2 separate regions of the Homo sapiens genome follow, and region 1 is linked to region 2. The links come from fine-mapping of genetic effects on plasma protein levels. Region 2 holds a variant in brackets. A gene starts in the other region. All regions are shown on their forward strands. Region 1 holds the start of LAMA4 (laminin subunit alpha 4). Region 2 overlaps LYZL6 (lysozyme like 6).

What was found. PIP is the posterior inclusion probability: the model's chance that the variant is causal. Protein levels are from antibody-based Olink assays in UK Biobank. Linkage for the fine-mapping came from a reference panel and not from the study's own genotypes, which makes the PIPs less certain.
Region 1: it holds the start of LAMA4, and the variant in region 2 is fine-mapped to the plasma level of the LAMA4 protein (UK Biobank, PIP above 0.99).

The regions. Positions count from the first base shown.
Region 1 is chr6:112,252,888-112,255,795 of GRCh38, forward strand. LAMA4 (laminin subunit alpha 4) reads right to left here and starts at 1,680. Exons shown (of 39, transcript NM_001105206.3): 1 at 1,572-1,680; 2 at 1,069-1,404. The coding sequence starts at 1,263. All of the region lies in intron 2 of LAMA4-AS1 (LAMA4 antisense RNA 1), which reads left to right.
Region 2 is chr17:35,934,095-35,937,002 of GRCh38, forward strand. It overlaps LYZL6 (lysozyme like 6), which reads right to left. Exons shown (of 5, transcript NM_020426.4): 4 at 2,661-2,739; 5 at 424-771. The coding sequence ends at 702. Among named protein-coding and RNA genes, the nearest start is that of RDM1, 4.8 kb to the left of the region's middle. The variant G/A (reference allele first, on the strand shown) is at 1,156.

The DNA of each region.
Region 1 (2,908 bases), not on the chromosome of region 2:
CCCTGTCCACTCTCTTTTTTGGGGCAATGTGGGTAGGGCTTACTCTGAAGAAGGACCATGTTCATGCACCTTATTTTTAATCATCAATAATTAATAACTATAATTGTACTAACAATTAACAGAATTCATAGCAATAATCCATGCATCAGTGATGTTAGAAATGGTGTCAATCCACATAACTGTTTTAGTTGTACAGTTGCTGTAACCATAGCTATAGAGTGTGGTGTTTGTTTTGCTAGGTCAATTGCTCCTTCCTTTCCCATGAACTTAGGTGACTTTATTTTCCTCCCTCTTAGCATGTCCCATGCAATGGGCATGCTGTTGTCTGTTTCAGTTCAGGGGTTCTTAAATCACTTGTTCTGGATTCATTCTCCTTTACCAGACCTCTACATTCTGGTTTTGTTTCCAACTTAAAAGCTATTGTAAGGTATTCAAACAGCAGCTCTTTGAATAAACATATTATCAATAGCATATCCTGAGGCTTGATTTTAATGGAAACATCTTGTTTCTGGAATACAATGGCTCGTTTCTACTTAAGATACCCTCTCAGCAGTTGTCTAACAGCTCCTTTCATGACCAGCCACTCTCACTCACCCCCTCACCTTCCCTGCTGCAGAAGACTTCTTGTCTAATATGAGACAAAAAGATCCTGCAGTAGTGTTCCCACTGTCCTAACAGCACAGAGGAGCAGGAAGCCAGTGACAGGGCACACACGTTAAGTGCCGTGGCTTGACAAAATGACTACTGGGACACGCAAGTGGCAGAAGTCACCGATGTGCTGCTGCAGTCCCCGGTGAGAGTCTAGCGGATGAACTCAGAGCACCAACACATGCACTCTCACCCCTTTGAGCAGACACATTCCGAAGCCTCAACTTTCAACTCTCAACATCCAAATGCAACTTACAAAGGAAAACTCTTTATTTCAAGTTTCCGAACTGACCTAGCCCAGGTGAAACTCTCAAGGCACTGGGGAGAGGAAAGAGGCGGAGAGAGAGAGAAGGACGAGTGTGGCACAGCCCGCGGGGGCGCAGGTGCCCCAGCAGGGTGGCAATGGCAGGGACACTGTACCTCGGCCGCAGGCGGCAGGCGTCCCAGAGCCACGCGGGGTTCGCTCGTCTCAGGCGGGTCTTGCCTGCCAACCGCTGAGCTCCCTTCAATGTCAAAAGGAAAAGCGTTGTCGTCCCCGGACGCGGCGCGGGAGCAGGCAGCGCTCCAGAGGAGCCACAGAGGCAGAACCGAGCGCCAGGCTGAGCTCAAAGCCATTTCTCCGCTGACATCCAGTAGTGCTCTTCCAGGGCTCGGGCGCTGTGGGTCTCCGTAGGTCTCCCGCGTGGTGCGGCGGTGCCTCGCTTATTTTCCCTCCTCTCCGTGTGCAGTATCCCGAGGTGGCTGCGCAACCAGCAGCTTAGGAAATAAAGGGAAAGTGCGAGAGTAAGGGAGAGTTCCAGCCTCTCTCTCCCTCTCTCTCTCTCCCCTTCTCCCCCTCTCTCTCCCTCTCCCTCTCCCTCTTTCACTTTTTCTCCTTCCCGCAGAGGTTCTGGCTCAAGAACCTACAGATGGACGGAGCTTACAGTACGGCATCAAAAGGCAGACGGATTGGGGTGAGCCCCGCCAGCGCTAGGCCACCTCCTCTCCCTGGCCGTTCGGGACTGGGGACTGCGCTGTCCTGGCTTCCTTCTCACATTCATTCTCACCACTCCCTTTTTACCTTCTACTCCCAGGCCCTCCCACTCTAAGCTGGCTTTTCAGACACTGAGGTCCGCCTTTCCCTGCGGTCTTCCCTCCCCTCTCAGTTTGGAGCCCCTCCAAGGGCTCCAGAAGAATATTCAGCTTTTGTGACGCTTCCTCACCACTCTTATTTATGTAGTCAAGGTACCGGATGTCTTATCTATATTTACATAGATATTTTATGTGGCCCCCGCTAGTTTGCAGGAAAGTGGGTGGAAAAGGGATTCCAGGGCAGGAACCAAAGGTAGATGATCTCTGAAGGCAGAGGGTCAGGGTGCCCACTTTCTTGAGCAAGGTTTCTCGGGTTTTTTCTGGGGGATAGACTGTTGCACTCTTTGTGCTAATATCTTCTCTTCAGATTCACTGGCCACCCCTCTTCCTCCCTCCAGTCCTCACCCAGAGGGCTTGGGAGAAGAATATCTTTCACTGCAGCGCTGGAAAATGACTTCATTACCCAAATGCATGAACTTTTATTTACAAAGACCATCTTGTTTTCATCCTAAAGAGGTGCTTTGTAAGGGGCCCGGAACAAGGCTTGCAGTGTATGAGCCTGTCAAGTATACTGCCTACAGCCCCGGCCTCTTCCTCTTGGCCTGTAATCTCATGCCTACTACATCTGTCTGAATCATGTAACCTTTCCAAGACTTCAGGGTGAAGTTGGGCTACAGCTATGTCAGGGGTGCCCCTGTGGATGGGATAGTGTCTGCAACAGCTGATAGGTACCTTTGTTTACATTGGCTTCATAACGAGCTCTAAACATTTCCACAAGATCCAACCATGGTTTAAAAATGGTCAGATGAGACAACCATAAAATGACACCCAGGTAAGCTTCCAGGTGAAATAAAGCATTTTTGTATAACCTAATCATAAAATAAATAAATAAAGCCTTTCCATAAAACCTAATCATTAGCTCCATTTCATAGAACAAAAGTCATTTTATCTAAGTGTAAGCAAAACCATTTATTTTGCACCTAACATGTGCCAGATACTTGGCATATGCTATTTGTAAACCTCAGCATTCCTGCAAAGTAGTACCATTATTTTCCTTTTACAGAAGAAGAAAGTGAGGTTCAGAGAGACTAGGACATTTGCCCAAGGTCGCACAGCTGGTGGAAAGCAGAGATGGGGTTTGGATCCAGGCCTCACTGATTCCAAAGCTCTCTTTTACATCTGTATACAC
Region 2 (2,908 bases):
CACCCTCCAGGCAAACCAGATCCTGTCCAGAGCACCTTTTTTTAATCATCTAGATCCTAGCTTATTCTCCCAAAGCACCCCCAAATTATTGGTATCTGCCACTATTTCTCCATCCCATCACTACTTTCTCCACATCAATACCAGACCCCACCCATTGCCTACTTCTGAGTTTTCTCTTTTACTTCAAAAATTGTTCTTTGGAGGAATTACTTGGATGCTGATACTGTTTCAAAGCAATAATTATGGATTTTACTATACATTTAATTACCTATTGTAATGTTTGTGGATGTCTCTGCTTCTCCACCTAGATTATGAACACCTAAACAACAATAGCTGTGTTTTGTCTTCCTTCTACTACCTAGTACACTCCCACTGTCTTAGGTACTCAAATATATGTAGACTAATGAATAAATGGACACAGTCTTTGCAGAGCGAGTGCTTTAATATTTCGATAAATATAAAGATTTCTTTATTGTGGTCCTCAGTTTACAAATAACAGACAGGAACCAGGGGACTGGGTCCAGATGGGAGTAAGGAGGAAGCCAAGAAAACCATTTATTCCTGGGGCTCTGGTCAGTTTTAGTTGTAAATGGGAAGGGAAGAAAATAACATGAAGTGGAGGCAGTAGGAAGAAGAAATGAAGAATCCCTGAGTGAGGACAGGAGTCTTGGAATGACTCCACGGTGCACCCGCACCCTGTTTCATCTCAGGCGGCATCCTGTCAGCCAGTAGAAGAGTGGCCGGCCTGAACAGTGCAACCTCCATTCTACCCTGCGGAGAAAAAAGACATGGTTCTTGCCTCACACTCAGTAACTCTTCCACACACATGACCCAGTTCTTGGTGAGTCTCGCATATGGAGCAACGCCCAGAATCCCCGTCATTGCTAGCTAGCCCTCTGGTCTGTCCTCCACTGTCCCCTCTGACGAATCCTGTAAAACTCTCTCATCTCTGGTGTTTGCCTGCTTCCCTGGATCAACGTTTCCACATTTTAAAATCCTCATATCTCCCTGAAGGGGTGAGCACTGTTTTACAGGGCTGAGAGTTACTTATTAAAAAAAAAAAAAAAGTCCCAGGTACAACCATTGATTCTCCCTCCAGAAAGGATCAGCATAATCATCGCTGTCAATTCTTTTCTGTGGTGTTTTGAGTATGCA[G/A]GGGATTTGACTCCTTCCACAGTTGCCTGTAGAGGCAGCCATTTGTGTTACTTATATATCTAGTTTGAAGCTCAGAAAAGGTGACTATCTGAATGTCCACCGTTGGTGAGCTCACAGCTATGTGGGTGTCTGCCCAGCTGATGAATGCCACATTTTTTTGTTGTCGTTTTTTGTTTCTTTTTTTGAGACGGATTCTTTCTCTGTCACCCAGGCTGGAGTGCAGTGGCGCGATCTCAGCTCACTGCAACCTCTGGCTCCCGGGTTCAAGCGATTCTCCTGCCTCAGCCTCCCATGCAGCTTGCCTTAAGGAGCATGGACAGAAAGCAAGGGAAAGGTCCCCAGAGAGATCCCGGCCCACAGGGTCAGTGCCTCATCCCCACATAACACAAAAAGCAGCCTGGGACAGGCACCCACCACAACGCCTGGCTAATTTTTGTATTTTTTAGTAGAGACAAAGTTTCACCATATTGGCCAGGCTGGTCTCGAACTCCTGACTTTGTGACCCACCCACCTCAGCCTCCCAAAGGGCTGGGATTACAGGAGTGAGCCACTGCGCCCAGCCGCCACATTTTTTTTTTTTTTTAAACAGAGTCTCATTCTGCCGCCCAGGCTGGAGTGCAGTGGCGCGATCTCGGCTCACTGCAGCCTCCACCTCCCAGGTTCAAGCGATTCTTCTGCCTCAGCCTCCTGAGTAGCTGGGACTACAGGCAGGCGCCACCATGACCAGCTAATTTTTTGTATTTTTAACAGAGACGGGGCTTCACCATGTTGACCAGGCTGGTCTCGAACTCCTGACCTCAAGTGATCCACCTGCCTCAGCCTCCCAAGGTGCTGGGATTACAGGCGTGAGCCACCATGCCCGGTCCACATTTTTAAATAAAAAAATATTGTCAATTATGGCCACAGGGCCCGAGCGGCAGCCATAATTGTATTGCTTAACTCCTCCCATCCCTACAGTTGATTGGACCAAGGGGGCACACATGGTCCAAGTGGAACCAATCAGATTCTCTATCCCAGGAACTTGGACTGGGACTGAGCCTAGCCAGTCCCTATGGTTGCTTAGGACTTTAGCTTATTAACTTTGCAGCACCCTTTGTCCTTTAGACTGTGGAGCAGAGAAAGTCTGCGGAGAGAGAAGTGAAGCAAATGCACCAAGAGAAGCTGAAACCTGCCATGGACAGTGTGCTGACAATTTCCAGCCCTGGTTCCATGCTCTTCCTGAGGCCCAGCTGCAGCCCTTGAGTGGGCTCAGTGAGACATCTGGGCCTCTCAGAATAAATTTCCCCCAGCTAGCTCAAGTTGTTTTCTGTTACTGCAACCAGAAGAGTTTTGTTTAATACAATATCATAGAAGAACCAGATCTCAGAGTTCCAAGCCCGTCCGCTATCCCACATCTTTCTAGACACTGCAAGGGCGTGCCCGTGAGTCCTTGCCTACTGCCCTTTTCTCTGTCACGTCCTCCTTCGTGGGGCTCTGCCCGCTGAGTCCCACCGTGTCCTCCTCACCAGTTGTTCATCCCCCGTGCTCCGGACACAATCCTTTTTGCGCAGTGGATGCCTGCAAGAAGGTTGGGATTCAGCAGATCTGAAAGGGAGGAAGAGAAAACCTGTGAGGGCACAGAAGACAGCCCCAAAGATGGAGGCAGACACCAGCCCTCCCTGGACAGCCCTATGCCACCTAGAGGCTTCCAGTTGAGGCAAAGGCTGTCTCCCAGGGGGCCCATTTAGACATCCCTACAATGGCTGCTAGAGGT